2 separate regions of the Homo sapiens genome follow, and region 1 is linked to region 2. A link means that fine-mapping ties the variant in region 2 to the expression of a gene that starts in the linked region. Tissue or cell type: whole blood. Region 2 holds a variant in brackets; the other region holds the start of a gene. All regions are shown on one strand. Distances are between the middles of the regions. Region 1 holds the start of RAD52 (RAD52 DNA repair protein). Region 2 overlaps RAD52 (RAD52 DNA repair protein).

Evidence for each region.
Region 1: RAD52 starts here. The variant in region 2 is fine-mapped to the expression of RAD52 in whole blood (INTERVAL, PIP above 0.99).

Annotation. Positions count from the first base shown.
Region 1 is chr12:947,851-952,237 of GRCh38, reverse strand. RAD52 (RAD52 DNA repair protein) reads left to right here and starts at 2,544. Exons shown (of 12, transcript NM_134424.4): 1 at 2,544-2,636. RefSeq lists enhancers at 2,322-2,591, 2,055-2,713, 3,142-3,221, 2,714-3,372.
Region 2 is chr12:924,276-928,662 of GRCh38, reverse strand. RAD52 (RAD52 DNA repair protein) reads left to right here. Exons shown (of 12, transcript NM_134424.4): 6 at 1,400-1,518; 7 at 3,138-3,213. Among named protein-coding and RNA genes, the nearest start is that of RAD52, 23 kb to the left of the region's middle. The variant G/A (reference allele first, on the strand shown) is at 1,787.

The DNA of each region.
Region 1 (4,387 bases), 24 kb before region 2:
AGTTCCAGCACTTTGGGAGGCCAAGGTGGGAGAATTGCTTGAGGCTAGGAGTTCAAGACCAGCCTGAGCAACATAGCAAGACCCTGCCTCCACCAAAAAAATGTTTTTTTACTTAGCTGGGCATGTAGCCTCTGTAATCCTAGCTACTTAGGAGACTGAAGCAGGAGGATCACTTGAGCCCAGGCATTTGAGGTTATAGCGAGCTATGACCGTGCCACTGCACCATAGCCTGGGCAGCAGAGTGAGGTGCTGTCTCTTAGAAAAAAAAGTTTTTCATAAAAAAAAAGAAAACAATATAATATATACAATAACATGCAGGTAGGTAACTTTAAAATACATTTACCCCAAAAATTATGTTTCAGAATTTATAAAATTCAGCTAAAGGAGTTCTTAGAGGAAAATTTATAGTTTAATAGTTTAAATGCCTTTACTTAAAACAAAAAAAGGTTAAAATCATAAGAAACAAAAAGAAAGAAAAGTAAAGTAAACCTAAAGTGAGCAGAAGAAAGGAAGTGATGAAGATAACAATGAAAATCAGTGAAACAAACAAATGGAAAAACAATTGTAGTAATTAATAAAACCATGAGCTGGTTCTTTGAAAAGACAGGTAAAATTAATAAACATCTAGCTGGACTAGTGAAAAAAGGAGAGGACACAAATTACCAAAATCAGAAATGAAAGGACACAACAAAGAAAACAACAGAGTGAGAGAAAATATTTGCAAACCATATATCCAATAAGGGGTTACTATCCTATTCTAAATATGTGAAGAAAGCAAACAACTCATAGCAAAATCAGATCACACGACTAAAAAGGGGGCAAAGGGCACCAGGTGCACTGGTTTACACCTGTAATCCCAGTGCTTTGGAAGGCTGAGACAGGAGAATTGCTTGAGGCCAGGAGTTGTGAAAAGCCTGGACAACATAGAAAGACCTTGTCTCTACAAAAAAATTTTAGATTAGCCAGGTGTGGTGACATATGCTTGTAGTCCCAGCTACCTGGGAAGCTGAGGTGGGAGGATCACTTGAGCCCAGGAGTTAGAGGTTGCAGTGAGCCATGATTGCAGCACTGCAGTACAGTCTGGGCAACAGCTTGATAGCTTGAGACCCTGACTCTTTAAAAAAAAAATCATTTATCAAAAGATGACATACAAATGATCAACAGGTTCATAAAAATGCTCAATATTGGCTGGGCACAGTGGCTCACACCTGTAATCCCAGCACTTTGGGAGGCTGAGGTGAGCAGATCACCTGAGGTTGGGAGTTCGAGACCAGCCTGACCAACATGGAGAAACCCTGTCTCTACTAAAAATTCCCCAGAGGCTGGGGAATAAGGGGCTGGGGGAGATAATGGGGAGATGAAGATGTTGGTCTCAGGGTACAAAGTTAACAGTTAAACAGGAGGAATACAATTTTGAGATTTATTGCACAGCATAGTGACTATAGTTAATAATAATTTATTGTATATTTCAAAATTTCTAAGAGAGTAAGTTGAAAATATCTCGCCACAAAAAGAATGATAAGTGGGCTAGGTGCAGTGGCTCATACCTGTAATCCTAGCACTTTGGGAGGCTGAGGCAAGAGGATCACTTGAGGCGAGGAGTTCAAGACCAGCCTGGGCAACATAGCAAGACCCTGTCGCTACAAAAACTTTTTTTTTTTTTTTTGAGACGGAGCCTCGCTCTGTCGCCCAGGCTGGAGTGCAGTGGGGCGATCTCGGCTCACTGCAGGCTCCGTCCCCCGGGGTTCACGCCATTCTCCTACCTCAGCCTCCCGAGTAGCTGGGACTACAGGCGCCCGCCACCACGCCCGGCTAATTTTTTGTATTTTTAGTAGAGACAGGGTTTCGCCATGTTGCCCAGGCTGGTCTCGAACTCCTGACCTCGTGATCAGCCCGCCTCGGCGTCCCAAAGTGGTGGGATTACAGGCCTGAGCCACCACGCCCGGCCCCAGGGGACATTCTAGAGGGGACTTCGCCCCCCAAGCCGCACTTCTCCATTTCCCTGCGGTCGTCGCTAACCGAAGGCGCCATCCGGTGACGACTGGATGTGCGCGGCGGTGGTGAGAGGCCGCGAGAACCACCAGGTCCACCGCTGCCTCGGCCCGGGCGGAATCTGGGAAGGTCTCTGACAACCATTCATCCTCAGATTTTCCCAATTGTGCATGGGTGGGCGGGCCCCGCATCCTAATGGGCACTGGGCATGTGAAGTGTGAACCACCCGGGCCTAACTAGCCGCTGAAGGCCTGACGAAACCGCCAGGCCCACCAGGGGGCAGCAGAGATCCGACGGCCGCGGACCGAGGGAAGCTGGCGGGAAGTAGGAGGCAGAGGGCGCGCAGGGAAGCGGCAGGGCGAGCGGCTCAGAACGTAAAAGCCAGCACCGCGCCTCCAGGTTGCTTTACGGCTGCCGCAGAAGGCTTTGCGGCTCTTTTCCCCTCCGACTTGATTTACGGTTCCTTCTCTGGTCTGTGTTTTTTTTTTTCCCCCTCCGGCGCTGGGCGTGGGTTCGGACCTTCTTCCCAGAGACGCTCGCGCACCCTTCCCATTCTCCTCTGCGCGGCCTCCATCTAAGATCTCTTCCCCTTGTCCATAGCCTAGATCGAGCTCCCTGTGTGCACCGCGCGCTGCCCGAGGCGCGTAAGTGGGGGAGGAGAGCGGCTTCCCCCGGGGTGGTTCTAGCCGTGGGTGTGGAGCGTGGGAAGGCTCAGCTTCCGGGTCGAGAACCTGGGGCTGCGGTGGACCTGATCCTGAGGTCTCAGCGTAGAGATGCTGAGTCCAGAGGCCTGTTCTAGTTCACCAGTGCAGTGAGGGGCTCAGTATCCGGGCCTCCCGAGAGGTGGGTAGGAAGGCGGGGTACAGGAAACTTGGCACCAACGCGCCGGGACCCCACCGCGGTGCGGACAGCCAGGTGTCCGTGGTGGCGCTTCCTTGGAGATGCTGCCTGCAGACAGGCGTGGGGAATCTGAAGTTTGTGTTAATAGCTAAACGAAGTTGAGTTGCAGGGAGCGGGGGACGCTGGGAAGAAATGATTGATTTAAAAGGAATTTGACGCCGGGCATGGTGGCGGCATGCCCCCATGTTCCCTGGAGGTCAAGCCTGCAGTGAGCCGAGATCGCACCCGTACCACGACACTCCGTCCCGGGCGACAGAGCGAGACCCTGTCACGGGGGAAAAAATAAAAATAAAAATTTGACGCTCACTTTAGCTGAGTATTGAGCCTTGTTATAACATTGAGATAGAGGTCTGGCGCGGCGTCTCACACCTGTAATCCCAGAACTTTGGAAGGCCGATGCGGGAGGATCGCTTGAGGCCAGGAGTTCTACGCCAGCCTGGCTAACATAGCGAAACCCCGTCTCTACTAAAAATACAAAACTAGGCAGGCCTGGTGGCGGGCGCCTGTAATCCCCGCTACTCGGGAGGCGGAGGCATGAGAATCGCTTGAACCCAGTAGGCAGGTGTGCCGGTAAGCCGACATCGCACCACTGCACTCCAGCCTGGGGGACAGAGCGAGAATCCATCCAAAAAAAAAAAAGTTATAATTCACGTACAATTAAATTCACTCCCTTTTTTAAAAAAAAGTGGAGACATAGTCTCGCTCTGTTGCCCAGGCTGGAGTACAGTGGCGCCGTCTCGGCTCACTGCAACGTCCGCCTCCTGGGTTCAAGCGATTCTTTGCTTCAGCCTCTCAAGTAGCTGGAATTACAGGCGCATACCACCACACCCAGCTACTTTGTATTTTTCACCATGTTGGTTAGGCTGGTCTCGAACTCCTCGCCCTTCCAAAGTTCAGGGATTACAGGTGTGAGCCACCACACCCAGTCTAAATTCACCCTTTTAAAGTGTGCAATTCAGTGGTTTTAATATATTCACAAGGTTGTGCAATCACCACTATTATCTAATTCCAGAACATTTTTATCATCCCTAAAAGAAACCTTAAAACCATTAGCAGACACCCATTATTTCCTCCTACTCCCAGCAGCACTAATCTATGAATTTACCCATTCTCAGTACTGTATTATACAATATTTGTTCTTTTGTGTTTGGTTTATTTCACTTCATGATTCAAAGTCCATCTATGTTGTATGTAGCATGTATCAACTTCATTTTTTAAATAACTGAATTATTTATTGTGTGGATATACCACATTTTGTTTCTCCATTTTTGATGGATACTGGTGATTTTCTAGGCTTTCTAGGTCTAGTCCTCCACAGAACTCGCAGTCTGAGGCACAGACATTTAAAACTTAAGTTTTTGGAAACTAGCATTTAACTCTTGGGTTGGGTCAGGTAATTCAGTGGCCTCAGGTCTGGTATCGTTTAGGGCAGTTTTTTTTTTGTTTTTTTTTTTTTTTTGAGATGAAGTTTCACTCTTGTTGCCCAGGGTGGAGT
Region 2 (4,387 bases):
CTTGCCACAAAAATAAAAAATTTAAAATATAAAATTTATGGAAAATGTATATCTTAATGAGATGGATGGTGCTGTTTTTTCTTTTCAGTTAGTTTATATATCCATATATCCATAACTGAATATTACTTACTTCTTTTTTTTTTTTGAGATGGAGTTTTGCTCTTGTTGCCCAGGCTGGAGGGCAATGGTTCAATCTCAGCTCACCGCAACCTCCACCTCCTGGGTTCAAGCGATTCTCCTGCCTCAGCCTCCCAAGTAGCTGGGATTACAGGCATGCGCCACCCCGCCCGCCTAATTTTTTGTGTGTGTTTTCAGTAGAGACGCGGTTTCTCCATGTTGGTCAGGCTGGTCTGGAACTCACAACCTCAGGTGATCCACCCGCCTTGGCCTCCAAAAGTGCTGGGATTACAGGCGTGAGCCACCGCACCCGGCCTACTTATTTCTTGAATGAACAATTCAGCATTAATTCTATTCTGACTTATTTTTCTAAATAGTACTAAAAAATCTTGTATCTATGAGTGAGTAGCTGAGAATGGAAAGAATTGTGTTATAGTGTCACTCATTTATTTGAGTGCTTTCTGAGTTATTTTTTAAAAATCACAGAGCGCTGTCATCAAACATTGTATTTAATTCTCAATCAGCGAATGATGTGCTCAGGTCCACCTTCTCTTTTGGTGAGAGGCAGGAGCTGGACGCCACCTGATTTACAAAGGGTTTGCTCTCCCGTCCTTACAGACCATTAGATCCAGTGTTCAAATCATCCCTTTGTTTCATATCCCAGAGGTTTTTTTTTTTCCAAGACGTAGTCTCACTCTATCACCCAGGCTGGAGTGCAGTGGTGCAATCTCGGCTCACTGCAACCTCTGCCTCCCAGGTTCAAGTGATTCTCCTGCCTCAGTCTCCTGAGTAGCTGGGATTACAGGTGCCCACCACCACACCCGGCTAATTTTTGTATTTTTAGTAGAGATAGGGTTTCACCATGTTGACCAGGCTGGTCTTGAACTCCTGACCTCAAGTGATCCACCTCCCTTGACCTCCCAAAGGGCTGGGATTACAGCGTGAGCCACCACGCCCGGCCCGGCCATCCCAGAGGTTTTTTTTACCTTAGGGTGATGCACACTGATAGGATTTGGGGTGAGTTTCTAATGTGCCCTTTGTGTGTTGGGAAGTTGGGAAGGGAGGATCGTCTTGACACCTTGACCGCAGGCACATGTCCAGGCAGCCCAGGTCTAGGAAGCAGCACTCGCGATGGATTCTCACCCAGCCTTCTGCCCGTGCCCCTGTAGCAAGGCCGCCAGGTGGGAGAGTCCGGCTTTGAACCCTGCTGCTTGAGGAACAGGGGAGTTGTGGCACGCCTGCCGCTCTCGTGTTTGAGTTCAAACTCCTTTTCTGCCCCCAGGATGGTTCATATCATGAAGATGTTGGTTATGGTGTTAGTGAGGGCCTCAAGTCCAAGGCTTTATCTTTGGAGAAGGCAAGGAAGGAGGCGGTGACAGACGGGCTGAAGCGAGCCCTCAGGTGAGCGCGGGGCTGGGAGTCTAACCTGCGTCATTTCAGCTCTTGCTTCAGAGCAGATTTCGATTTTTTTTGGAAGAGGTAACACATCCACATGGTTCAAAAATCCAAGCAGCGTGGAAGGTAATTCTCACCCCTGCCCTGGTTCCTGTCTGCCGTTTTCCCACTTTCGTTAGTATTTTTTCAATGTTTCTGTTTCAGGCTTCCCTTGCTGGGAGTAAGTGGTAGAATCCTGTACTCTCTCTTCTCCGTGCACTCAGTCATGTGTGCC[G/A]GAGGCCTTCCCACTCCTACTGCGAGTGCACAGACAGCACCCTCCTCTCCGTGCTCCTCAGCAGTCCTCCGCTACGCACAGGTAGCATAGTTAACGTAGTTACACAGTCACGCAGATGTCCGTGTTAGTCCATTTATGTTGCTATACAGGAATACCAGAGGCTGGGTAATTTATAAATAAAGGAGGTTTGATTGGCTTATGATTCTGTGGACTGTACTGGAAGCCTGGTGCCAGCATCCACTTCTGCTGAGGCCTCAGGAAGCTTCTAATCATGGCAGAAGGTGAAGAGGGAACGTGGAGAGAGAGGGAGCAAGAGAGAGAAGGAAGGAGTCCCAGGCTTATTTATTTATTTTATTGTTGTTTTTCATTTTTTGAGACAGGGTCTTGCTCTGTTGCACAGGCTGGGGTGCAGTGGTGCCGTCATCGCTCAGTGCAGCCTTGAACTCCTGGGCTGAAGTGATCTTCCCGCCTCAGCCTCCCGAGTAGCTGGGATCACAGGCACATAACACCACCCCCAGTTAATTAAAAAAAAATTTTTTTTTTTTTGGAGAGACAGGGTCTCCCTTTGTTGCCTAGGCTGGTCTCAAACTCCTGGGCTCAAGTCATCCTCCTGCCTTGTGCCTCCCAAAGTGCCGGGATCACAGGCATGAGCCATCATGCCCAGCCCCCACACTCAAAACCACCAGATCTCTCATGAGCTGAGTGAGAACTCACTCAACACCAAGGGGATGGCACTAAGCTGTTTATGAGGAATCCAGCCCCAGGATCCAGTACCTCCCACCAGGCCGCACCCCCCGGCATTGGAGGTCACGTTTCAACATGAAATTTGGAGGGGATAAACATCCAAACCATATCCGTGTCTTTGAGAATTGAAGTGAATTGAACCAGAAAAACCTATGAGTTCTGTGGGGGAGTCCGTAGATCCCAAGTTAAGAACTCTGGTCATGGGAGGTTGTGCCCTTGAGCCCCCGGTCCCCAAGTGTGTGTTGCCTACTCCTGCTGGGAAATTGGAGCAGCCTTTGGGGGGAAAAAAAAGAAAAACTCTCTGCAGTTTGTTCTCCATGTCAGGAGGTGGCTGGTGGGTTTTGTGAATGGCGCCGTAATCTTTTCATACTCATCTTCTCTGTGAGGGCAGGGACTTGTGTCTTGTCCTCACTGCAGTATTCTCAGAAACTAACACAGTGCAGGAACATGCTAGATGCTTACCAGACATCAATGGGGAATGCATGTTAGGGTCCACTTCCTCTGCTGCTCCTGAGAAGCAACCTGTACAAAAGTTGTAATTCTATTCTCTGATATTCATGTGTAACAATTCTTAACCCTGTTTCACCTTTTTTTCTCTTGCCCTTAGGAGTTTTGGGAATGCACTTGGAAACTGTATTCTGGACAAAGACTACCTGAGATCACTAAATAAGCTTCCACGCCAGGTATATCAGACATGGATGAGTGGAGTGAAGATAATGCGGCAAACTCTTGTGTGTCATGGGTTGAGTATTTGGAGGATGCAAGGAGAAAAAGTGAGGACTCAGCTCTTTAGAGGGTCGGGAATGTTGATTTCAGATTTCGAATGTTAGAGACAGCAGGAACTAATCCCAACATTTTCCTTTTTTCTAAAGTACATCATGTGGGCCGGGGACCGTGGCTCACGCCTGGAATCCCAGCACTTTGGGAGGTGGAGGCAGGTGGATCACAAGGTCAGGAGATCGAGACCATCCTGGCTAACACGGTGAAACCCTGTCTCTACTAAAAATACAAAAAATTAGCCGGGCGAGGTGGTGGGCGCCTGTAGTCCCAGCTACTCGGGAGGCTGAGGCAGGAGAATGGCGTGAACCCGGGAGGCAGAGCTTGCAGTGAGCCGAGATGGCACCACTGCACTCCAACCTGGGCGACAGAGCCAGACTCCGTCTCCAAAAAAAAAAAAAAAAAAAATCACACCATTTGACAAGAATGTGAGGTCTAGAGAATTTGTGTACGTGTAGGTAGTGAACTGTGGTTGGGGGTAGTCTGTGAAGCCTCAAAGCAAGCACACAGCCCTCTGCAGCACCACTGTCCTTCCCAGACACTCCCAGCCTCGCTGTTGAGCCTTCTTTCTTTTCCTTAGTTCTGGTGTCATTACATGTCTGATGTCATTACAATGTCATTTACATGTCCATTATTTCTGTCAATACCTATAACGTGATCTGAGCCTTTGCCTTTGGAGAATGGGGTCTGTGGTGGGGCAGCCCTGGAGTCACACTGCCTTGCCATGAGTGGCTTCTGGAGTGTTCCTCCTGCCTCATCTGCTCTCCGAGGTCCCTGCCATGTCGCTCCCCAGGGCAGCATTCCCATCCTGTGCCTGAGGGATTCTTGTCCTCATGGAGCCCCACAAGGTGTGTGTCACTGGGCATCTGTAAAAACTCCTTTAAAAAAATCATTTTTAAACATTATTGGATTCAGTTTGCTAATATTTTGTTAGACTTTTTTTTTTGAGACGGAGTCTCGCTCTGTCGCCCAGGCTGAAGTGCAGTGGTGTGATCTTGGCTCACTGCAACCTCTGCCTCCTGGGTTCCAGCGATGCTCCTGCCTCAGCCTCCTGAGTAGCTGGGATTACAGGTGTGTACC